Linked DNA regions of Homo sapiens. The protein of the gene in region 2 interacts with the protein of the main gene of each other region in a pairwise test. Each region holds a gene or a part of one and is shown on either strand. Other genes may lie near its edges. The genes, in order: STAC2, ATXN1, KRTAP8-1, ZC3HC1, RNF183, SNAP29 and PCMT1.

Region 1 (3,500 bases), on a different chromosome or scaffold from region 2:
CCAGAGGAGGGAGTGGGTCATGAGACAGAATTCCTGCAGAAGAGAGTTCCTGGAGGAGGAAGGACCAGTGGAAGCATATTGGCAGGATAAAGAGGGTATGAACTGAGTGAGGCAGAGAAGAGGACAAACATGTCAAAAGCTCAGAGGCATAAAAGCATGGATGAGTTTGAGAATTGAGGATTCTCAATTCTCAATGAATTGAGAAATGAGTTTCTGGGCTGCAAAGGCACAGGTTGGAAGGACAGGTTTGGCCAAGTTGCAAGGAGAGTCTCGTGGCTGGGGCGAGAGCCTTGGACGGTGTCCCGAGGAGCTAGGAAGAGTTTTTAGCAGGATCAGGCATCACCCCCGCAACAGCTGTATGGAGGACAGGTGGAAGCAGGGGGCTGGAGGGGAGGCTGTGGCCTTGAAGCAGACTGGGGCATCAGGGCCTGAACTAAGGGCTGTGAGGTGACGAGTCAATGGGAGGGAGGGGAGGGCTAGAGAGACTTTCTGTCGGGGAGAATCAGTCCCAAGGATGAGGGTCCAGGACGACCACTCCTCACCCCCCACCAGCCTGTTCGAGAACACAGGTGGATACTACGTTGCCCAGGCTGGTCTCCAACTGCTTGGCTCAAGCGATTCCCTCCCGCCTCAGCCTCTCAGAGTGCTGAGATTATAGGCAGGAGCCACCATACCGTGCCTATTTTTTTTTTTCTAAACTTGAGTAAATGGTACACCCATACAACAAAATACTTTGTAGCCATAAAAAAGAATGATGAATCTATTTATGTATGGGTATGGAATGATTTCCAAGATTTACTGTTTATGAAAAAAAGCAAGGCACAGGAAATATAGTATACTACCATTTCTTCAAAGAAAAATGGAATTAAACCACTTAAACTTGTTTCTATCCGATTTCACATAAAAGTCTAGATTTCTTTTGAAAAACTAGAAAACCTGGCAACAGCCTCAATTGGCTTGAGGAGACCTGCAGCTACTCCCTGGCCATCCAGTTTGCCACAGTCCCCACGGCTCTTGATTGCTGCCCACCTGGCCAGAACTCCTTTCTCCATGGAGGTCAACCACCTGGCTTTTGTGGCACCTGAGATTGCGAAGTGTCGTCGGGACCTGGGGAGCCTCTCTGTTGCTGTTTCATTTCGCTCTGGCCCTCAGCCCCCACGCTGCTGCTGCTGCTGCTGCTGCCGCCCCTACCGCCAGAGACACCCTGAAGGGAAGCCCGCCCTGGCCAGCCCCCTCTAGGCTCCCACTCACAGCTCCCTCTTTTTCTCCCAGCTCCAGCGATTCAAGCGCTCCCTCTCCCTCAAGACCATCCTCCGAAGTAAGAGCTTGGAGAACTTCTTCCTTCGCTCGGGCTCTGAGCTCAAGTGCCCCACCGAGGTGCTGCTGACGCCCCCAACCCCACTGCCCCCTCCCTCCCCACCACCCACAGCCTCGGACAGGGGCCTGGCTACCCCATCCCCCTCCCCATGCCCAGTCCCACGCCCCCTGGCAGCGCTCAAACCAGTGAGGCTGCACAGCTTCCAGGAACATGTCTTCAAGCGAGCTAGCCCTTGTGAGCTGTGCCACCAGCTCATCGTAGGTAGGTGCCTGGGCACTGAGGCGGCCACGGGGAGGGGCCAGCGTGGGTACTGGGGAGTGGGCTCATGTTGCGCCCAATATTATTGGGCTCTTGCTGTTCAGGAGCCCCAATACTAATTGTGCCTCTGTGCCTCTTTTTTTTTTTGAGACAGAGTCTTGCTCTGTCTCCCAGGCTGGAGTGCAGTGATGCAATCTTGGTTCACTGCAACCTCCACTTCCCTGGCTCAAGGGATCCTCCTGCCTCAGCCTCTGTAGTAGCTGGGACTGCAGGCACACACTACCATGCCCAGCTAATTTTAAAATATTTTTTGTAGAGATGGGGTTTTGCCATGTTGCTCAGGCTGGTCAAACCCTGGGCTCAAGCAATCCATCCACCTCAGCCTCCCAAAGTGCTGGGATTACAGATGTGAGCCATTGCACCCACCCCCAACTGTGCCTCTTACCCAAGGCAGAGAGAGGAGCACCACCAAGGGTGGGGGTATACTCAGTGTCACTGCCTCAGTGTCACTGCCATGTTTACTAACGACTCTGGCTTCCGTGCTCCCTCATACCCTGACTGTGTGAGGGGTAGGTGCTGGGCCTCAAGGCTGGCATGAGAATGCCCAACCCCTGCTCTCCTCATCCCCTAATGTGCCCCTCCTTTGCCTGTTGCCCACGGGGGTGTCCTCAATTGCTGAACCCAAATTCTTCCTAGGAAACTCCAAACAGGGCTTGCGATGTAAGATGTGCAAAGTCAGCGTCCACCTCTGGTGCTCTGAGGAGATCTCCCACCAGCAATGCCCAGGCAAGACGGTGAGCGGGGACCCAGGCAGAGATGGCCAGCTGAGTGCTGCCAGTACTGTCACATGGGAGAATGAGTATCCCTCAGGGCTGCTCCTTCCTGTGGGGTGGGCCCTGGGCTTGGGAAGGACCAAGTTCTCCATAGGCCATGACCTCCTCAAAACCTCTCTGCCCTCTCTTGCCATAGTCCACCTCCTTCCGCCGCAACTTCAGTTCCCCTCTCCTGGTGCATGAGCCGCCACCAGTCTGTGCCACAAGCAAAGAGTCCCCACCCACTGGTGAGTGCCCCCCCTGGCCGCAGTCCCTGCTCCCATTGTGGTGGGATGAGAAATCAACATCCCTGACCAGCCTGGCCAACACAGTGAAACCCCGTCTCTCAATTGCTTGAACCCAGGAGGCGGAGGTTGCAGTGAGCCAAGATCACGCCACTGCACTCCAGCCTGGGCTACAGAGTGAGACTCCATCTCAAAAAAAAAGAAAGAAATCAACATTTCTGAGATGGGTGCCTGAGTCACACTGGCACAGACAGTTCCTACCATTTCCCTTCTCTGGATGTTCCTGTCCTGAATTTGGGGTTCATTCATTCATTCACTCATCATTCCTTCAACAAGCACTTTATTAAGCACATACTAAGTGCCAGGCACAGTGCTGGACTCTGAGACACAGTAGTGAAGAAGGTGGAATTTATTGTCTAGTAAAGGAGATAGGACTGAAATGGACAGTCATGCAAATCATCAATCAATCACCATCAGCATGAGCGCCTTAAGTGGGGAAGATAAGGAATAGAGCATAGAATGTGTGCTGAAAGCTGGGTGTGGTGGCTCATACCTGTAATCCCAGCTACTTGGGAGGCTGAGGCAGGAGGATTGCTTGAGCCCAGGAGTTGGAGTCCAGCCTGGGCAACATGGTGAGACCCTATCTCTAAATTAAGAGAAAAGAAAAAGCTCGCTGTCTTCATCTGCAAAATCAGGGAAGACTTCCCAGAGATGTGAAGGATGAGGCATGAGGGGTTCATCCATTTAGGATCTGGAAAGACTGGTGTGGGGCAGAGGGAAGCCTGAGAAAGGAAGGACAGGGAGTTAAAGAAAGGGCAAAGTGCCAAGTGTGGTGGCTCACACCTGTAATCTCAGCACTTTGGGAGG
Region 2 (3,500 bases):
TCAAAATACTTGATTCTCAAATGAGGTGCAGGTACCATAAATTTACAGACAGTGCTTTTTATGAGCTCACCAGTTGGGAGAGTGTTTGCCTATATGACAATGTGTGTGCACACAATCCTGTTTACATATCACCTGGCAGATAAGGTTTTATAGAGTCCAAGTTACAACCTCCTCCTAGTTTGCTGAAGTGCAGAGGAGGGTCAAACATGATGTAAATGCCATAGAAGATTACTTTACTCTTGCATGAGTATGCTTTCTTATTTCAAAAGTATTTGTGTTGCTGCACTAGTTAGGATAATACAGAGAGTTTACATAACTTGTATTCCATCAGAGGGAAGAAGGCAAGAATACAAGCAAGGCAGCACGTATTCACTGCAAAAACTTACAAAATAATATACCAGAAAATAATTTATAGGACATTTTATACAATAATATACACCAAAAATGGAATACTCAATATTTTTAAAACCCAGCAGAGCAACATAATACAATACTATTAATATTGGAAGATTAACAAGAAAGACGGCCTAAACAAAACTGAGGTAATGGTCAGTAAGTACCAGGAGATAATGTGAGAAAGGGGAACAAAATTAAGGGCACAAGAAAATAAAGTTTGCCATACACAGTGACAGAAAAATATATTTTCTTTGAACGTTAGAAGGATAGATGCTATAGGTTAGTAGCTACAATAACTGTCACGAAAAACTTCTGCTACCTAACTCATTCAAAACTTGTCATGTTAAAGGGCACCTAAGTGTAAAAAAAAAAAAAAAGAGTTCCTCTTAGCCCAAATCAAAACATCACAATCGGGGAAACCTCTGCCCTCTTGAGTCTCAAATTCTGAGTACACTACCATGAATTTTCTGGAAAGTAATTTTCAGGTAGGATACAATTTTTGCTTACATTGTGGCAATTATCATTACATTTTCATTACTCCACAAATGGGATGCATTAAAAGTTACAGAAAAATCAATGAAACATTTCTGCTAACATGAAATATGTCAAACAAAATATAATGCTTGTTGCTTTTTTGTCCATAATTGTTCTCTCTAAACGTGTTTTGGTACATTTGGGATGGTAGTAATGCGTAATACAAATATTTATAGTACATTAGCCTGAAAGTTCAAATTATGAGCGTTATAAAATATATTACTACACTAATAAAGACAAATATCCATAAATATAATTATAAAAGAATAAAATAAAAAACTTTCCATAAGATTTGTCTAAAACCATTCTTTTTATTACTTCTGTAATTTTAAGCATTTATATATTTTTAAAAATCTCAATGTAATTACCGTTCTTTCAGCCAACATTTAAAAAATTCTGTAAAACTGACACTGTATATCACTTCTTAAAAAAATTTTGAATGAGTACATTTATTTTATTAAACTAAATTACATGAAAATAAAATGTGAACATAATTGATGACTTAAAATTCTTATCTTAGAAAAGGAAGTTCTATATGTAAGGTCCTAAAACAGAAATTATTATTTCTATTACCATTTCTACAATGTATTGCTTTCAATGCTTTTATCAAAATAAGGAGGGCCTGCTTCTGATAACCTTGGAAGTATGACCAGAACTAAATCTGTTATTTGAAGCAATTAAGCTGCACAGATCTAAATCTCTCACAGAAACTAATCATTCGAACTATTGAATTACTCTGAAAATACAGAGCAAGGAAAGTCAAATAATCTATCTCTCCCCTAAAAATAATAGCCTGTCTTACTTCACTATTGTCACTTTACCGATGCAAGTATTTAAGCTGTTCAGATCCTAATCTATGTGTTATTTTCAGATAACTACAGTTTAAAGAATTAACATTCACTCCCACATTTACCTACTTACGTGAGTTTCAGAATTTTAGTAAAATATGTTTATTGCTTAACTTTTAATAGGAAACAAAATGAGTGTTAGTGTTAGTCATCAGAAACTGTCACTCAAGGTATGTGCAAAAAAGTAAAATCCACTTGACATTTCAGAATGAAAAACAATAAAGGCACAACATTATTCAAAGAAATGTGCGTCCTTGGACTCCATAATGACAACAAAAACAGGAGTCATAGTAATGTTTACTAATATTTCAATAATCTCAGCACTGGCCTTTCCCAGGACTCCTAGGCAACTGACTTAGGTATGTTGAAACTTACAGGCATTTGACATGTAATCTTGTGGCTAAAGAGTTTCTGTTTAATCTTCCTCTAAGTGTAAAAGACAATTCAGAAGTCCTGAAGTCTAGTCGTAACATTTTTGACAAAGTGTCACTTCTGTTTACCAAACCCTCTTAAAACGAAATCCGCAAGGAAAAATATTGCCTTTGGCGGTTCCCACCAGGTACATTTTTTTATACTTATTTTCACATGAATTTATTTGTGCACTGAAAAATATATGTTCACATTTTACTGCAAGTAAAGCATTTTTCTATATGTTGCAAAATAGAATCCAGGACCTCCAAGGCATTGTGTAATATTGACATCCTTGCTTCCCATCTATTTACCACCTTATAAAAGTTGAGTAGCTAGAAGAAATAATAGCTCATTTTAACTACAGCAGTGCTTCATCTGACCAGGCCACAATGAATTTACCAACCACATAAACTCACAAAACGGTAAAAACTCATAAACCCCCTGGGAATAGAGTTGAGTAGCTCTCTCAATCCTAGCCCTGGGGGAAAAAATTTACCAGTTTAGCTTTGTTGGCCATAAAATTGTAAACTGACTGGCAGTCACAACTAAATCAAGACATAATTCTCAATTATCTTTTCTTTCAAATACCAGGGTTATGAAAATACTCCCCCCCGCCCGCCCCCTGCCCCACTTAGTTGGATTGCCTGAGCAGCACAGAGCTTCAGCAACTAAAGCAACTTTTCCTTTTTTCCTTTTTGCCATAATATTATTTCTCTTTGCTTAGCCAGCTTTATCAGTGGTGCCCTAATGCAAAGACTAGAATACTGCTTTCTAACTGCTCACTAAATTACATCCTAAAATAAAGTACATGTTTATTGTCCAAAAGCACCATGCACTATCAGTCCTCTAGCTATAGGCCTCTATCGTTTCTCGCTTAGCTAAGGAAAAAAAAATCCTTTTAACTTACTACCAAAGATCATTCAAATCACAGCCAATAGATCCAAATTAAGAATGAATACATTCAGAATGTCTGCCTACTGTCAGTACCAGTTTTTGTTATGATGGCTGTCAAGTTTTAAAATGTGACAATGGGAATATATTTTCCGAATAAGTTATTCCCCTGAGTAAACCCTTTAGAAATCCAGCCATCGCTATGGGCAATGGAGGTTCCAAATGATGAACGCTCTTCACACTTGAAAGGGTTAAGTGACTGACTGCAAGGCCAAAGGCACCAGACTGCAAAAGAAATGTTGCTTTAGTGAGCTCTGAAAGGTTTCTAACAAGTACCAAATACTTGTTGATCTGTTCACAATAAACACCAGCAGGATTGTCAGGCTCCTTTCACTGTCTGGGGAGATGCATTTACATACT
Region 3 (2,449 bases), on a different chromosome or scaffold from region 2:
AGGGGATTTATCCCTTCACCTTAAAAACTCTCAGATTTCCAAAGGATGTCTGTGGCTTCTCTATTACTCAATGCTCCAGCATCCTTCATTAGGGGGCATGGCACTTTAGTCTATAATCCTTAGTCCCTGGGAAAGGGAACACAGTGGATTTCATTTGGACTAACATGGAAGTGACTGAAAAAGTTCCTCCTGTGTTGGGTTTTCTTGCGGAGGAGCAGAAGTAGTGAGATGAGAAGGGGACCCCGAGCAATAAATGGTGCTCCATTGGGTTGGAGGTGGGCATCATAAAATTTAAAGAAGGTTCAAACAGGCAACCTTTTAAGTCATTACCTGCAACCCACCCTCTTACCTGCTTATCACACAGGATCAGTAATTCTTTGCTTTCTGGCTGTTCCTAATGCCCACATGAGAAAAATAAATTCACTTCCCCCCCACCACCCATGTAACAGAAAATATGCACACACCAAGAAAGGAAACTTCGCTCTAGCATGAGAATATTATACCAGCTGAGACAAATTTATTGAGATTTTGATAGACATATCCATGACTTCATCACAAGTCATGAGTGTCATGGAAAATTCAAAAGTAGCTCATGACAAGTGGGAGGTCAAATTTCCGAAAATGTCCCAGAGAACATCAGCCAGGGGAGGCAGCTTGAGGAAGCGTCTGCTTTTTCATTTTCCTCCCCTGGGACTCGAGGTAAGTTGGAAAGCAGTGTCTCTGAGGTTGATGAGCAAATGAGGACTGAAGGAGTGGATACGGGGGGAACCTGGAGATGTGGGGCTCAGCCTTCAAGGGAGAGAAGATGCTACACCTCGGGGATTTCAGCCAATCAGTAGAGAGCAAATGGCGAGTATCTCCTGTAGCCGAAAGCCCCACAGCCGTTGTAGCCATAGCCGAAGCCATAGCCCACTGGAGAGTAGGTGCTGCCATAGCCACAGCCAACGCTATATCCCAGCGGGTAGCCATAGCTGCCCCAGTAGCATCCTGGGAAGACAGCCCCGGGGAAGTTGTCGCAGAGCATGGTGTCGGGAGTGGAGGGCTTAGGTAGCAACAGAGTGCGTTTCCTCAGTGGGATGGATTCCTAGTCTCAGAACCTTCTTTATATATCCCAGCTCTGGTGGGTGGTGAAAAACACAAAGCCCTCATTTTCATTCTTGACACCAATTTACATTCTAAAAAGCTCATTAACTTGTTTTGCTCTTGCTTATGATGTCTTTACAGTGGCTTAAGAAAGCTCTCGTGTGATGCAATACAGGGAGAAGATGCCTTTAAACAAATTATTTCCCTTCCTAAAAAAAAAAAAATTATTGCCAGGACTTCAAAGCACTCTGTCTTATAGACCCCATATAACTCTGTAAGCAGGTATATAATATCAAGAAATATTCTGAGGTTGTTAGCTGTTATGCAGTCCTCTTGCTCTCTGAATTTCCACAACACACAGTTGAAATTCAATAAATATGTGTTAAATACATTAATATATAAAATAACAAATGGATAGTGAGTCTATCTCAAAATTCTCAAAATTAAAGTATGTCTTAGTATTCACCTGCTTCAAGGATTCTCTTTTTTGGAATATGAAAGACAAGTGCAATGGAACTCATGAGAAAGAGTCTTTTTTTTTTCCTCTACTACAGCTACCGTGTTTGGGAAACTGGTTAAAAGTGTAATCTTAATCATAGTCCCCTCCTAAACTATACCTAACATCACATTTCTAGAAGACTACTTGAATTAATAGTATTGAGATTTTAAAACGGAGTATTTGGATTAATCCTTGTACTGAATTGTCAAACAAATTTAATTTTTTGGCCTGAAACATATTTCAAACTAAACATTGAAACTAATAAGGTAAACACAGAAAAATGAATTAAAAAATTTATTGTAAGATTTAAAATTTTTTTTCTCTTAGATCTAATGAAACTAGATTGTCTGACAAATGTGATGATATTATAAAGGGCCAGATGACAACATGAAATCAGTTATTTCACTTTTACAATGATCATGCACCCCAGGATAAAGAAGGAATGTTATTCCTTTCTAAACAGAGAGTCAGTTCTCAAGCATGAGTTAAAGGAGGGATAAGGCTGATCAAAACTATCTTGGATCATGTAAGACCTGATATATTATTCTCAGACACCTGCATTAAGATTTCTTACAGTGGCACTTAGTAGAGAACTTACAGAACAAATACCAAAGAGGGCATATGGAACAGAAATAGGCACAGAGATAATAGGAATCATTCTAGAAGGCCACAAAACAGATATGTATTACACATGAGCTCTCCCAGATTTTACTTCATAACCCAGAGGTAACTTTGCTCCCTGCTATCAGCAGCTAGGAATCAAAGGCTGAATCCAAGAACAAGATGAGACACTTGGAAAATTCAAAACCATGCCAGTGTTCTAGCCAGCAGTAGACTAATTACAGCAGAGGCATTTTTTTTAAATAT
Region 4 (3,500 bases), on a different chromosome or scaffold from region 2:
CTGGGTTGGCTGAGGCAGAAGAATGGCGTGAACCCGGGAGGCAGAGCTTGCAGTGAGCCGAGACCCTGCCACTGCACTCTAGCCTGGGCGACAGAGCGAGACTCCGTCTCAAAAAAAAAAAAAAAAAAAAAAAAAAAAGAGACAGGGTCTTGCTCTGTCATGCAGGCTGGAAGGCAGTGACATGATTATAGCTCACTATAACTTGGAATTCCTGGGTTAAAGGGATCCTCCTGCTTCAACCTCACGAGTAGCTTAGGATGACAGGGGTATGCCACCACATCTGGCTAATTTTAAAAAATTTTTTCTTTGTAGAGACAGGGTGCCCAGCCTGGTCCCAAACTCCTGGCCGCAAGTGATCCTCCCACCTTGGCCCTGCAAAACACTGGGATTACAGGCATGAGACTCCATGCCTGGCTGGGGTTATTACTTTAAGTCCTTTTATGTCTTCTAAGTTTAGTTCTTTGCCTCAAGACTTACCCCTTGCAGTTTGTACTCTACCCTAGTTCATGTTATCTATAACATCTCTTCCTTCAAAAAATCTCGTAGCTTCTCATCACATACATTTAATAAAATCATGGTTTGGCCACTGTCTACACTTTAGTCTTCTCTTCTATTCTCCCCACAGGGACACTGTGAGCCAGCCCTGTGAAACTATTACAGCATTCCCCAAATGTACCATCCTTTGGCCTTTTGCTTTTACCCACTGTTGCTGGTCTTTCAAATTCAGCCTAGAGGCCAGGCACAGTGGTTCACGCTTGTAATCATAGCACTTTGGGAGGCCGAGGAGAGTGGATCATTTGAGGTCAGCAGTTCAAGACCAGCCTGGCTAATATGGTGAAACCCCGTCTCTACTAAAAATACAAAACTTAGCCAGGTGGTAGCGGCATGCACCTGTAATCCCAGGTACTCGGGGGTGCTGAGGCAGAAGAATCGCTTGAGCCTGGGAAGCAGAGTTTGTGGTGAGCTGAGATCAAGCCACTGCACTCAAGTCTGGGCAACAGAGTGAGACTGTCTCAAAAAAAAAAAAAAAAAAACAGCCGAGTGAAGTGGCTTCCTTCTTCAAAAAATCTCGTAGTTTCGCACCTGAACCTGGGAGGCGGAGGTTGCAGTGAGCCCTGTGAAACTATTCAGCATTCCCCAAATATATCAGCACTTTTTTTTTTAATGGAGTCTCACTGTGTCGCCCAGGCTGGGGTGCAGTGTTCAAGCGATTCTCCTGCCTCAACATCCCCTAGTAGCTGGGATTACAGGCATGTGCCACCACGCCCGGCTAATTTTTTTGTATTTTTAGTAGAGATGGGGTTTCACCACATTGGCTAGGCTGGTCTCGAACTCCTGACCTTGTGGTCCTCCCGCCTTGGCCTTCCAGACTGCTGGAATCACAGGTGTGAGCCATCACGCCTCGCCACTTTGCCTTTTTTCTTGGACTGTATTGCAGAATGTGGATTTGGAGCAAGTGGTCCTGAAGCACTTATTTTGTCACCCACAGATTAAGATTTTCCTCCACAGGCTACACTTGAAGGTCTCAACACTTTGAAGTCTCCTCTTATGGGGCATCCAGTCTAACCCTCTGGCTTGCTACTTAGCAATGGGTGTTCTGTGATGGGGTGATTTGGAAGGAAGGAGTCTGCCCCTTTCTGAGCCACAACAGTGAAGCCATTTGATCTGAGCCTAGGTGGGAGAGATATTTTAATAGATAAACATTCTAGCTTTGATTTTTCTGAAGAGTAATATGCCTGTTTTTTTTTTTTTTTCCGCAATTCAGGGGATTTTCTTTGGTGCACTTGTTGACTCTGCATGAATTTGCAATCCAAGGGAAAAGTTGGAGAAAGAACAAAGTTGGCTTTAAAAGTCAAGGTAAGGCTGGGAGTGGTGGCTCACGCCTGTAATCCCAGCACTTTGGGAGGCAGAGGCAGGTGGATCACCTGAGGACAGAAGTTCAAGACAGCCTGGCCAAAATGGTGAAACCTCGTCACTACTAAAAATAACACTTTGGGAGGCTGAGGCAGGAGAATCGCTTGAACTCAGGAGGGAAAAATTAGCCAGGCATGGTGGCGGGCACCTGTAATTCCAGCTACTCGGAAGGCTGAGGCAGGAGAATTGCCTGAACCCAAGAAGCGGAGGTTGCAGTGAGCCAAGATCGCGCCACTGCACTCTAGCCTGGGTGACAGAGTGAGACTCCATCTCAAAATAAAAAATAAAATAAAATAAAATAAAATGTTTAAAGAAATTTAATTTAGCTTATAATTATTGGCAAATGTTAGAAAAAAATTACCTTCAAAATTATTAGTTTTGCTTAATAAATTTAAGCATAAAGTGAAATAACTGAGTGTTCTTTTATCCACACAAATGTCCTTTGAATGTTAAAGAACCAAACCAAGGGATCATATAATTGAAAGGTTATATCTAAGATCCATGTAGGAGGTAGAATGGATAGGTCAAAGTGGGTGACCATAGAGAAGAGCATCTAAAGTGACTTTCAGGTTTCTGGCTAGGACAACTGGATGGGACGTCAGTGCCATTTGCCAAGATGGAGAAAGTTTTAGGTATAAGATGAAGAGTTCAGTTTTATACACATTGAGTTCCAGGTACCTATAATATTAAGTGGAAATGTTTAGAAGGTAGATGAAAATATGAGTCAAGCTCAAAAGAGAGGTCTGGATAGGAATTAGAGGTCTCCGAGGTGGTAGCTGAAGTTATGAATGAGATCAGGAAAGCAAAATGTACGGTGACAAGAGTTGGGAACCACCAATAGAGCCCTGGGCAGACCTTAAAAACTTGGACGGCCAGGCGCGGGGGCTCACGCCTACAGGCCTCCCAGCAATTCTGGAGGCCAAGGCAGGCGGATCACTTGACGTCAGGAGTTCAAGACCAGCCTGGCCAACATGGTGAAACCCTGTCTCTACTAAAAATACAAAAATTAGCTGGGTGTGGTGGCACGCGCCTGTAGTCCCAGCTACTCGGGAGGCTGAGGCAGGAGAATTGCTTGAACCCAGGAAGCAGAGGTTGCAGTGAGCCTAGACTGAGCCATTGCAGCACTCCAGCCTGGGCGACAGAGCAAGACTCCGTCTCAAGGAAAACAAACAAACAAACAAACAAACAAACTTGGACTGAGTGCACTAGACAAGGATGGAATCAAATCCTCATAGGACCAAGTTTTGTTATACAATACAGGTAAATAACTAGTAAATCCTAGCTATTTCAACAGCAGGAAATCCTTATTATACAATCATCTTCACTTAAACAATTTTATTTAATAATCCCTTTTCTACCACCCTTTCATTGATCAAAGGTAGAGGGGAATCTCTGGTTATTTTCAATCTATTTTCTCCTTTTAGTGGTAAATCATGGAATATTCTTAGCCATCAGTGACCCTGGAATTAGCCTGCCATCCTACTGAAATAAAAAATATACCTACATGGCACTGATTCCTGGTCAAGGCATGAAATATACAGATGAATAGTGTTGCTTTTTAACTATGGGTCTAAAGAATTTTTTTA
Region 5 (4,277 bases), on a different chromosome or scaffold from region 2:
TATATAGGAATCCAGCCACGCACAGTGGAGGAAGAGCGTTGCAGGCCCAGGGAACAGCATGTGTGGCCCCGAGGTGAGAAAAGCTCTTCCAATTTGAGAAAGTGAAAGGAGCCCAGGGTGATCAAGGTGTGGTGACCGGAGTAGGCAAGGTGGGAGGGTATAGTACTCGGGACCTGTGAACTCAGGAGCTCATCTGGATTTTATTCCAGGGGTGAGCGGTAGGGTAAGGTACCTGATCCTATTTCCATTTTTAAAACACCATTCTAGCTGCAGAGCAGAGGACAGGCTGAGAGGGATAAGATCGGGAAGGGAACACCCGTTCGGGCTGCAGCAGTGTGGCTCAGGCGTGTGATGGTGGTGCAGGTTAGGCAGTGGCAGAGGAGATAAAAGGGGATGGGATAAGTGATATCTTTGGGGACAGAATCAAAGCCACTTCCCAAGAAGCAGTGGAGTTCTAGGGATCCAGTTGTAGTTTCTGTCAAGGTTCATGATGCCAGATCCATGGCTATTTAGGGCTGTGATTCCAGTTGAATTGCTTGACCTCTCTGTGCCTCTATTTCTCCTTGTGCAAAGGAAGCCAAAACTAGTAAAGCTTTTAGTTAGAGCCCAGCACCCAGTAAAGACCACAAAGCAATGCATGACCTAAAAATGGGACTATGTTCTCAGAAACACATCGTTGTATGAACAGCACAGAGAGTATTTACACAAACCTAGATGGTAGAGCCTGCTACATGCCTAGGCTATACGGTCTAGCCTGTTGCTCCTAGGCTACAAACCCATACAGCTTATTATGTTCTGAACACTGTAGGCAATTGTAACACAATGATAATTGCGTGTGTCTTTCAACATAAACTTAGAAAAGGCAAGGTAAATATATGGTATTATAATCTTAGGTGGCCACCATCACATATGTAATTCACTGTTGATCAAAACATTGTTATGGATATATGAGGCAGTTGAAATTATTAATGCAAATGGATTTGAGAGAAAGGAAGGGTCAAGGTTGATTTCAAAGCCGTGACAAAGTCCTCTGCATCAAGCTTTGAGAAGCCCCTGAATCCCAGAGTGTGTTAGAAGCAGATCTTTAATACTTACCAGAGGCCGTAAACTGTATGTAACCTTGACTCATCATTTCCCCCACTGGGAATCGATTCCACGGAAACCATCAAGGACTTCTGCAAAGATGTGAGTAAAGAGATGCCCATCCAGGCGCTGGTTTAACGGTGACGTATGGAGAACTACGTCATCATCCAGTAATAGGACATTGATTAAGTAGATTCTGCTCCATCCATAGGAAGAGATATTATGCAGCCTTTAATATGATGTGGTAAAACTATTAATATGGATATATACCTAGGATATAATGTCATTAAGCGAAAAAGAACCAGCAACAAAACCATATTACCATATAATCCAATTTCCAAAAGTGTGTGTGCAATGGAAAAAATGTCTGGAGAGATAAACAACCAGATATTAGCAGTGGTTATCTCTGGGGGCAAGATTATAAGTTTTTTTTTTTTTTTTAATTCTCTTACCTGAAAATTCTAACTTTACTCCATCCAGTAAGCTTGTATTACTACACGTCAAGATCTCCTGTTTCCCCCCAAATCAGACCTACCTTCTCTGAAGTTCCATGGCCAGAACTGTAAAAGGCTGTCCAAGAGGAGGAAGCATCATTATTGCCTGGATCTTTATCTGTGCTGCTCTCCCAGGGATCCACTGCTGTTTCAGGATCAGCTGGGGAGAGATTCTGGCCATGTATCACCTCCACCCCAAGCCAGGACATCTCAGCTACAGTAAATCCTAAACACCGCCCCAAAGTCATCTCCTTGGTCTATGAACAAGTCATCGCCAAATATCAATTGTCCCCAGCATCACTCCATTGTTTTCAACCAAGAACTGGCATTTCCATAGCACTTCACAGTTTACAAAGGGCCCTGGCCCTTGCTAAGATCTAAGTGTGGTGATCCATCTAGATAGGTTACTAGCCTTTTGGGATTTTTTGTTGTTGTTTGCAGAAAGCCATTTGATACTCTAAAACCACCCTGTGAGAGAGGCTGAATGGGGAGTAGAAAGGTGCCGGCTTTGGAACCAGATTTGGAACAATTTGTCTTGGACAAATGGCTTAACCTCTCTGAACTTCATTTTCCTCTGTAAAAAAGGCTAATCATCCCACTCCTACAAGGTTGCTCTGGGGAAGGAATAGTCTATACGGTGCCCAGTAGAATACGGAAGGCGCTCAATACAGAGTTAGCATGATTATTTTTAGACCCATTTTCTAGATGGGGAAGCCAAGGCTCAGAAGGGTGAGGCAACTTGCCGAAGTCTTCCCAGCTAAAGAGTGGCTGAGTTTGAAAGATGAACCCAGTAGCCTGCCCTCCCAGGCCAGAGTTCACCTGTCGCGCGCTGCACGGCTGCTGCCTCTCTGGACTCTGGAGCCCTGTGACCCGTCCCTCCGCGACCCTCTCTGTCTCCTTACCTGCTCCCTCGGAGCCGCCTCCTCCGCCTCCGTTCGTGCAGCCCTGCACGCATGTGCTTTGTTTTCTGACTTCCCAGGCCCGATTTCCAGGTAGCGTGGGTGGGTCTTATTTGCATAGGTCTTAGCAGCGTTTGGCCAGCTCTCGCTGTTTCAGGTTTTCTTCTTCCTTCTGGTGACTTTGGACCTCCTGTACACCCTGGAAGCTTTGGTTGCTTTGTCTTTCTCCTGTGAGTCACTCTGGCTTTTTCTCTGAGGGGATCAAGTGCGCTCATCCTTGCAGGCCTCTGTTCTGGGTCCGATTGATCTCCTGCCATCCCCTCGGATTCCACTGTCCTCTGTGCGCTGACCTGCCTCGACTCCTGGCTTCTGCCGAGATGGATCCTTCCCTATGCTGAGTCCCTGTAACCAAAATACAGATAGCTCTTGCAAAATACTGACAAAAGCGGCCACTAATACAGCAGAAAAATAGTCGGGAGACGGTTGAGCGTCTGCCTGAAGAGCCAGGGTTCTCAAGCAAGGCACACTTCTAGGTCAGAGTTCAGCCCTCACTGAGAATCCAAACTCCGTTTAACTACCGATGGAGACTTGAGCAAATTAATTAACTTCTGCCAGCCTCAGTTTCCTCACCTGAAAATGGCCATAATAACCTACCTACTTGATCTGTAGATTAAATGAGGTAATACGTGTCGAGATCGCGTAATAACACAGGGCCTGGCAGACAGTAACTCGCTAAATGTTAACCAGAACTATTATTGTTATAACCGGTCTGTTCACGTGGCCCATCTTTTGTTCCCGCTCAAATTCTTTTTGTACCTATGGTCCTCTTTTCTTTCTCTCTCTCTTTCTTTCTTTTTTTTTTTCTTTCTTTTTTTTTTTTTTTTTTAAGACGTAGTTTTGCTCTGTCGCCCAGGCTAGAGTGCAGTGGGGCGATACTGGCTCACTGTAACCCCCACCTCCCTGGTTCCAGCAATTCTCCTGCCACGGCCTCCCGAGTAACTGGGACTACAGGTGCGCGCTACCATGCCCGGCTAATTTTTACATTCTTAGTAGAGACAGGATTTCGCCTTGTTGGCCAGGCTGGTCTCAAACTCCTGACCTCAGGTGATCCACCTGCCTCGACCTCCCAAAGTGCTGAGATTACAGGCATGAGCCACCGCGCCTGGCCCCTTATTTCTTTACTGACATTTTCAGCCATACTTGAGAAATAAACAAGTAAATAAATGTATCTGCTTGGTGATGTAATCAAATGCCCTAGTCCCCGCATTTTGTGTTTTTTTACATTAATTTTTATGTATTGATTTATTTTGAGACAGAGTCTCACTCTATCATCCAGGCTGGGGTGCGGTGGCACGATCACAGCTCACTGCAGCCTCAACCTCCTGGGGTCAAGCAGTCTTCCCACCTCCGCCTCCTGAGTACCTAGGACTACAGGTGCATGCCACCGTGGCTGGCTAATTTTTGTATTTCTTGTAGAGATGGGGTTTCTCCAGGTTGCCTAGGCTGGTCTCAAACTCCTGGGCTCCAGCAATCCACTTGCCAAAAGTGCTAAGATTACACTTGAGCCACCGTGCCCACATTTGATTTTTAAATAGGTAATATATTTACATGGTTGAGCATGTGAATGGTTTGATTTCACAGTGAAAACTGTCTCTTCGCAGCCACCTAGTTTCCCTGGAAATCAAAGTATTATACTATCAGTTTGTTGTGTATCTTTCCAAAGATGTTTTATACATACACAAACAGCATGTCCATGGCAAAACATCTATGTATTCCTTTACCTCCTTTTTACACAAATGTG
Region 6 (3,500 bases), on a different chromosome or scaffold from region 2:
TGTATTTTTAGTAGAGACGGGGTTTCACCGTGTTAGCTAGGATGGTCTCGATCTCCTGACCTCGTGATCCGCCCACCTTAGCCTCCCAAAAGTGCTGGGATTACAGGCGTGAGCCACTGCACCCAGCCGCCCCCCCATTTTTTTTTTTGGTCGTCCATGTAAATATGACTACAGGCCTGTATCACCATGCCCAGCTTTAAAAATTTTTTATGTTTGTAGAGACAGAATCTTGCTATGTTGCCCAGGCTGATCTTCAACTCCTGGCCCCAAGTGATTGTCCTGCCTTGGCCTTATAAAATGTTGGGATAACAGGCATGAGCCACTGTGTCTGGCCCTGCTGGGCCCTTGAAATGGCCAACAACTTCCTTCATCCCGGCTTCCCCTGTGCTTTTACTGCCATGTGCCTGCACCAACCCCTCCTTCAATTGGTGGGTTCCCTCAAAACCTTCACCTTCTGCAAAAAGTCAGGTCCTTTGTGCAGCCTTCCTCTGTTCCCAGGGCCAACCTCCCTCTCCTCTGGGTCCCCACTGCATCCCTGTGGACTGTCTGCCTCCCCCATATCTTCCAACAGACAGACTGCATTCCTGCAGCTTCTGCTCCCACAGAACTGCAGAGTGTGGGTGAAAGTTTTGCTTTCTTGAATTTACTAAGAGATGGCAAGAATGCTACAACTGATTGGGGCTAATCTAGGGGCAGGCCAGGCAGGGTACATGACTTTGGGGACCTTGACGGGAACGCATCAGCTTTAAGTGGAAATGAGAACAAGCAGCTTGGAAAGCTGTCAGCAAGGACAAACAGGACTTCCCAAGAGACAAAGCCCACCTCACTGAAATAACTATGGCTGCCTCACTGATGGAAGCCTTTGCTGGGAAGCCCCTGAGTTTTCATGATGCTCCAAAAAAAGAAAACTGCCCCTGGAGCCACAGGACTTCCATGGCTTTCATAGCTATGTTCAGGGATGCAGGGGCCTCCAAGAGCCCCAGAAGCAGCCTTTGTGAAGAGGTATGTAGGATGTGGAAGGGTGTGAAAGGGTGCTAGTCACAAACTTGCCAGCTTCCCACTCCTCCAAGGGCTCACTCTGCTCCTGAGTTTGTACATGGAGGATGTCTTAGACCAAAACAAATGAACATCCTACCTTCTCCTATGGCAATTAAATGTGGCCAAAGATTAGGATATAAAACATCTTTCTGATATGTATATTGAAAAAAAAACAACAAAAAACAAGCAACGACTAGAACTGGAGGGAAATGGCGGATGTTTAAAATTAGGGTTGAGCTGGAGAACCCAGAATGGTGATTATGGCTGAGCCAAAAAAACCAACCAACCCTCATAACCTTAGCTAGTGCCTCCCCAGGGCACTCACTGAGGCCGGCAGGTTCCCAGGGCCAACTCTGCAGGTCCCTCCTGCAGTACTTTTTTTTTTTTTTTTTTTGAGATAGGGTCTCACTCTGTCACCCAGGCTGGAGTAGACTGGTACAATCATAGCTCATTGTAGGCTCAACCTCCCTGGGTTCAGGTGATCCTCCCACCTAAGCCAAAAGGTCGGGTCCACCTCAGCCACCTCAGTAGCTGGGACCACAAGCACGTACCACCATGTCCGGCTAATTTTCGTGTGTGTGTGTGTGTGTGTGTGTGTGTGTGTGTGTGTGTGTGTGTGGCTAATTTTCGTGTGTGTGTGTGTGTGTGTGTCTGTGTGTGTCTGTGTGTGTCAGAGTCTTGCTCTGTCGCCCAGGCTGGAGTGCAGTGGCGTGATCTCAGCTCACTGTTGCAGTGGCGTGATCTCAGCTCACTGTAAGCTCCGCCTCCTGGGTTCACGCCATACACATTTCTCACCCTCCCGAGTAGCTGGGACCACAGGCGCCCGCCACCACACCCGGATAATATTTTGTATTTTTAGTAGAGACGGGGTTTCACCGTGTTAGCCAGGATGGTCTCAATCTCCTGACCTCGTGCTCCGTTGGCCTTGGCCTCCCAAAGTGCTGGGATTACAGGCGTGACTCACCATGCCCGGCCTTTTTTTTTTTTTTTTTTTTTTTTTTTTTGAGACAGAGTCTCACTGTTACCCAGGCTGAGGTGCAGTGGTGCAATCTCCGCTCACTACAACCTCTGCCTCCCAGGCTTAAGGGATTCTCCTCCTCAGCCTCCCAAGTAGCTGGGGCTACAGGCAGGCACCACCATGCCTGGCTGATTTTTGTATTTTTAGGAGACACTGGGTTTCACCATGTTGGCTGGCCTGGTCTCACACTCCTGACCTCAAACGATGCACCCGCCTCGGCCTCCCAAAGTGCTGGGATTACAGGCCTGAACCACCATGCCCAACTTCATTTTTGTGTTTTTCTGTAGAGACGGGGTTTTGTCATGTTGCTCAGGCTGGGATCAAGTGATCCTCCTGCCTCAGTCTCCCAAATTGCTGGGATTACAGGCATGAGCCACCATGCCTGAACCTCTCCATAACTCTTGATGGCTTCGCCTGCCTGTTCTTTCTGCCATCACCACCAGCTTTGTTACCTACACTGGTTTCTCCCCAGCCCCACTCTGAGTTTGAAGTAGTTATCTAATTTCCTCCCTGCCACACCCTACATCTTGATCTGGGTGGTGGCCACACTAGTGTACACAGGTTCACAGTCACTGGCTCTCCACTTAAGATGCACATATTTTACTGTACCTTAGTGATGCATTAAAAAAAACGGCTCTGCAGTTAGGTGTGGTGGCTCATGCCTGTAATCCTAGCACTTTGGGAGGCCGAGGTGGGAGGACTGCTTGAGGCCAGGAGTTCAAGACCAACCTGGCCAACACAGCAAGACCTCATCTCTTAAAAAATAAATAAATAAAATGAAAAAGAAAAGCTCCACATTACAGAATTAAAACAAAGAGAGAGGCCAGGTGTGGTGGCTCACGCCCATAATCCTAGCACTTTGGAAGGCTGAGGCGGGCGGATCATCTGAGATCAAGAGTTCGAGACTATCCTGGCCAACATGGAGAAACCCCATCTCTCCTAAAAATACAAAAATTAACCAGGCATGGTGACACATGCCTGTAATCCCAGCTACTCAGGAGGCTGAGGCAAGAGAATTGCTTGAACCTGGGAGACAGAGGTTTCAGTGAGCTGAGATGGTGCCACTGCACTCCAGCCTGGGCAACAGAGTGAGACTCTGTCTCAAAAAAAAAAAAAAAAAAAAAAAAAAAGCCTGGCGTGGTGGCTCGGCACTCTAGGAGGCTGAGGCAGGTGGATCACCTGAGGTCAGGAGTTTGAGACCAGACTGGCCAACATGGTGAAACCCCATCTCTACTAAAAATACAAAAATTAGGCCGGATGTGGTGGCTCACGCCTGTAATCCCAGCACTTTGGAAGGCGGAGGCGGATGGATCACGAAGTCAGGAGGTCGAGACCATCCTGGCTAACACGGTGAAACCCCGTCTCTACTAAAAATACAAAAAATTAGCCAGGCATGGTGGCAGGCGCCTGTAGTCCCAGCTACTCGGGAGGCTGAGGCAGGAGA
Region 7 (3,500 bases), about 130 Mb from region 2:
AAACTACAAATCATAATTCTTGCATATTCAAATGCCTACTAAAAATCTCGACTTAAATGTCTTATAAGAAAAGCATTCCTCAAAATAATCTGATCTCCCACAGTCCCCTCCTCACAGAATAAACGTGGCTGCTCACTCACTCACCATTTCCAATTTAGAAAATGGCAAATCATTCCAGTTGCCAAGGCCTAAAACCTTGGTGTTGGATCCTTGCCTCCAATCTTTTCTCCCAGATCCTAAATCCAAATCTGGAATTCGCTATTTCTTCTGCCTGGAATGCTTATCCCAAGTCTACCTGCGTGATATGTGTCTACTCCTCCAGCAAATCTTTGGTCTAATGATACCTTACTGAGGCCTTCTCTACAACTATAAACCTACTGCCCCACACACTCTGTCCTCCCTCCCTACTTTGTCACTTATCATGTGACATACTATACTTGGCTGCTCCCATTAGAAGCTACAAGAGGGAGTGGATGTTTGTTTTGTTCACTGCTGTATCCCCAGTGCCTGTCATATAGAAAGCACTAAAATATCAGCTGACTAAATGACAAATTCCATAAACATTATATATGTAAAATGACAAAATCAAGAATGCAAAAGAAACATAAGTAGAAACAATTGATCATTAGGGGAATGGACTGAATTATTTTTACAAATAAAAATAGATAAAAGAACAATTGCTTTCAGTGGTCAGTACAGTAGTTTCCCTTTACCCACAGGAAATACGGTCCAAGACCCTTAATAGATGCCTGAAACCGCATACAATACCAAAGCCCATACAGCCCATACAGATACTCAACATTTTTTTTTTTTTGAGACAAAGTATTGCTCCATCACCCAGGCTCGAGTGCAGTGGCATGATCTTGGCTTACTGCACCCTCAACCTCTCGGGCTCAAGTGATCCTCCCATCTCAGCCTCCCACGTAGCTCATGTAGCTGAGACTACAGGCATGCACCATAATGCCCAGCTAATTTTGTTTATTTTTTGTAGAGAAAATGACAAATGTTATTTTCACTATGTTGCCTAGGCTGGTCTCAAACTCCTGGACTGAAGCGATCCTCCTGACTCAGCCTCCCAAAGTTCTGAGATTACAGGTGTGAGCCACCGCACTCGGCCTTCCTTAACTTATAACAGGTTTATTATGACAGGTTTACATCCAGTAAAGTAAAAAACTTGTAAGTCAAACCACTGTTAAGTCAGGGACCATCTGTATGTTGTTTTCTTCCTATACGTAACATACCTATAATAAAGTTTAGTTTATAAATTAGGCACAATTAAGAAATTAACAAAAATAATGAATAAAATAGAACAAGTATCATTACATGCCAGCACCATTATTCTTGCACTTTGGGTCCATTATTAAGTAAAATAAGGATTATTTGGACACAAGCCCTGTGATACTATGACAGTCACTGCTAACCAAATAGGCTACTAAGTGACAAACGGGCAGGTGTAGACAGCATAGATATGCTGAACAAAGGGATGATTCATGTCACGGGCAGGATCAAGTGGGACGTCCAGAGAGTTCCTCACGCTACTCAAAACAGCACACAATTTAAAACTTATGAATTGCTTGTTTCAGGAATTTCCCATTTAATATTTTCAGACCTCAGTTGACTTGGGGTAACTGAAACTTCAGAAAGCAAAACCATGGGATAAGGGAGGGACTACTCTATAGCATTTGAAGCCTATCCATTAAGTTAACATCCCACAAACCCTCTGGTTTAAATACCCCTGCTCCAGAACATCACCTCACCTACTCTGGCTATCTTCCTAAATTTTACCATGGCTTGAAATTATCTCAATACGAGTAGGAAGTAAACTCTAATATAAACATTATTTAAATAGTCACATTCCCTGGATTAAGCAGGCTCACGGTTTCAAATTAAGCTAATTTGTTTCACGAGCACATTACCAGTCCATAATCATAAAATAATTGTATTTTTTCATTTCTAGAGACCTGTGCTGTCCAATATGGTAACTACTGGATACATGTGGTTATTTCATTAAGTTAATTTTTTAAAAAATTGAATTTCGGTTCTTCAGTTGTCCACATTTCAAATGTTAAATGCCACATGTAGCTAGTAGCTACCACACTGGACAATATAGAGAACATCACCAAGCACTCTATAGGGCAAGACTGCTATAGACTTTTTCTAAAACATTATTCTAAAGCATAAAACTGATTTAGCTGATATGCTGGCAGAATTCAACCTTATAATTTTCAATTCTCCATGTCACTGGTTCTCAAAATGTGGTCCCTGGACCAGCAGTGGCACCACTTACAAATCTGTTAGAAATACAAATTCTCAAGCTCCGGCAATCTGTATTTTGAAAAGCTCTCCAGGTGATTCAGGAGATTTTGAAGCATGCTCAAGTTTTAGTCACTGTTCTAAGTTACTTAAGAGTGGTTATAATATAAGCCATGACATAAGAAATCTACCATTACAATCTGAAATATTCTATAAATGATGCATCAACTATGAAATCATACAACCACAGTCCTATTATGATAGATTTTAATACAAAAGGAAAACAAAATATTCTTAACAAATTATATTAAGCTTCATTTCTTAAAAACAAAACAAAACAAAACAAAAAAAACTATTGGCCAGGTGTGGTGGATCATGCCTGTAATCCCAGCACTTTGGGAGGCTGAGGCAGGCAGATCACCTGAGGTTGGGAATTCAAGACCAGCTGACCAACATGGAGAAACCTTGTCTCTACTAAAAATACAAAATTAGCTGGGTGTGGTGGCGCCTGCCTGTAATCCCAGCTACTCGGGAGGCTGAGGCCAGAGAATTGCTTGAACCTGGGAAGCAGAGGTTGTGGTGAGCTGAGATCGTGCCATTGCACTCCAGCCTGGGCAATAAGAGCGAAACTCTGTCTCAAAAAAAAAAAACCATTAAAAATGTAATTTCCTTCCCCTTCTAGTAAGCAGGCCCCTTTTCATTTCAACATCAACACAATCACATTTTTATATTTTTCTAAGATTTCAATTAAAAGCCTTTAATTTAGGAAGAATATACACAGTAGAATAATGAGGAAGGAAGGCAATATTTTCAAATTTTATGTCAATTACAATTTTCACATGAGCAAGTATTACTTTTATAATAAGCTAATAAAAAGAAATCTATTAGCTAGAATTACCTCAGCAAGAAGTTGAAACTAAAGTTGCACAAGTGTTACAAAAGAGGCTAAACAACTATTCTACTCTAATTTCCTCTTACCAATCATAAATCTAGTATAAAACTATTTGCAAAATCAACATCTATGTATATTAAATATTCCTTATTAAATTTCCTGACAGAAAAACATCCTTAGAAATTTCAGCTAAGAACAGTAATGCAATACATTAAAGTGATTATGAAACCACCGGGAAAAGATCTATCTAGTCTTGGCTTACCACAAATTTGGCCCAAAAAAGGAGAGACTTTAAGAGCCTGATTGATTACAAATTTCTGCCACAGCCAAGTGCCTACTATGATAACCTACCGGT

Evidence for each region.
Region 1: the proteins of ATXN1 (region 2) and STAC2 interact in binary tests that used the Homo sapiens proteins (3 or more experiments, as listed by UniProt).
Region 3: the proteins of ATXN1 (region 2) and KRTAP8-1 interact in binary tests that used the Homo sapiens proteins (3 or more experiments, as listed by UniProt).
Region 4: the proteins of ATXN1 (region 2) and ZC3HC1 interact in binary tests that used the Homo sapiens proteins (3 or more experiments, as listed by UniProt).
Region 5: the proteins of ATXN1 (region 2) and RNF183 interact in binary tests that used the Homo sapiens proteins (3 or more experiments, as listed by UniProt).
Region 6: the proteins of ATXN1 (region 2) and SNAP29 interact in binary tests that used the Homo sapiens proteins (3 or more experiments, as listed by UniProt).
Region 7: the proteins of ATXN1 (region 2) and PCMT1 interact in binary tests that used the Homo sapiens proteins (3 or more experiments, as listed by UniProt).

Annotation. Positions count from the first base shown.
Region 1 is NC_000017.11:39,215,946-39,219,445, reverse strand, and holds part of STAC2 (SH3 and cysteine-rich domain-containing protein 2), read left to right. Parts: intron 1-1,272; coding exon 1,273-1,579; intron 1,580-2,272; coding exon 2,273-2,370; intron 2,371-2,545; coding exon 2,546-2,636; intron 2,637-3,500. UniProt on the Homo sapiens protein: Plays a redundant role in promoting the expression of calcium channel CACNA1S at the cell membrane, and thereby contributes to increased channel activity. Slows down the inactivation rate of the calcium channel CACNA1C.
Region 2 is NC_000006.12:16,754,961-16,758,460, forward strand, and holds part of ATXN1 (ataxin-1), read right to left. Parts: intron 1-3,500. UniProt on the Homo sapiens protein: Chromatin-binding factor that repress Notch signaling in the absence of Notch intracellular domain by acting as a CBF1 corepressor. Binds to the HEY promoter and might assist, along with NCOR2, RBPJ-mediated repression. Binds RNA in vitro.
Region 3 is NC_000021.9:30,812,197-30,814,645, forward strand, and holds KRTAP8-1 (keratin-associated protein 8-1), read right to left. Parts: upstream 1,079-2,449; 5' UTR 1,025-1,078; coding exon 833-1,024; 3' UTR 501-832; downstream 1-500. UniProt on the Homo sapiens protein: In the hair cortex, hair keratin intermediate filaments are embedded in an interfilamentous matrix, consisting of hair keratin-associated proteins (KRTAP), which are essential for the formation of a rigid and resistant hair shaft through their extensive disulfide bond cross-linking with abundant cysteine residues of hair keratins.
Region 4 is NC_000007.14:130,034,375-130,037,874, forward strand, and holds part of ZC3HC1 (zinc finger C3HC-type protein 1), read right to left. Parts: intron 1-3,500. UniProt on the Homo sapiens protein: Required for proper positioning of a substantial amount of TPR at the nuclear basket (NB) through interaction with TPR.
Region 5 is NC_000009.12:113,300,577-113,304,853, forward strand, and holds the start of RNF183 (E3 ubiquitin-protein ligase RNF183), read right to left. Parts: upstream 2,801-4,277; 5' UTR 2,480-2,800; intron 2,474-2,479; exon of another isoform or gene 1,738-2,473; 5' UTR 1,619-1,737; exon of another isoform or gene 1,176-1,618; 5' UTR 1,096-1,175; exon of another isoform or gene 1-1,095. UniProt on the Homo sapiens protein: Acts as an E3 ubiquitin ligase catalyzing the covalent attachment of ubiquitin moieties onto substrate proteins. Triggers apoptosis in response to prolonged ER stress by mediating the polyubiquitination and subsequent proteasomal degradation of BCL2L1.
Region 6 is NC_000022.11:20,872,507-20,876,006, reverse strand, and holds part of SNAP29 (synaptosomal-associated protein 29), read right to left. Parts: intron 1-3,500. UniProt on the Homo sapiens protein: SNAREs, soluble N-ethylmaleimide-sensitive factor-attachment protein receptors, are essential proteins for fusion of cellular membranes.
Region 7 is NC_000006.12:149,752,741-149,756,240, reverse strand, and holds part of PCMT1 (protein-L-isoaspartate(D-aspartate) O-methyltransferase), read right to left. Parts: intron 1-3,500. UniProt on the Homo sapiens protein: Initiates the repair of damaged proteins by catalyzing methyl esterification of L-isoaspartyl and D-aspartyl residues produced by spontaneous isomerization and racemization of L-aspartyl and L-asparaginyl residues in aging peptides and proteins.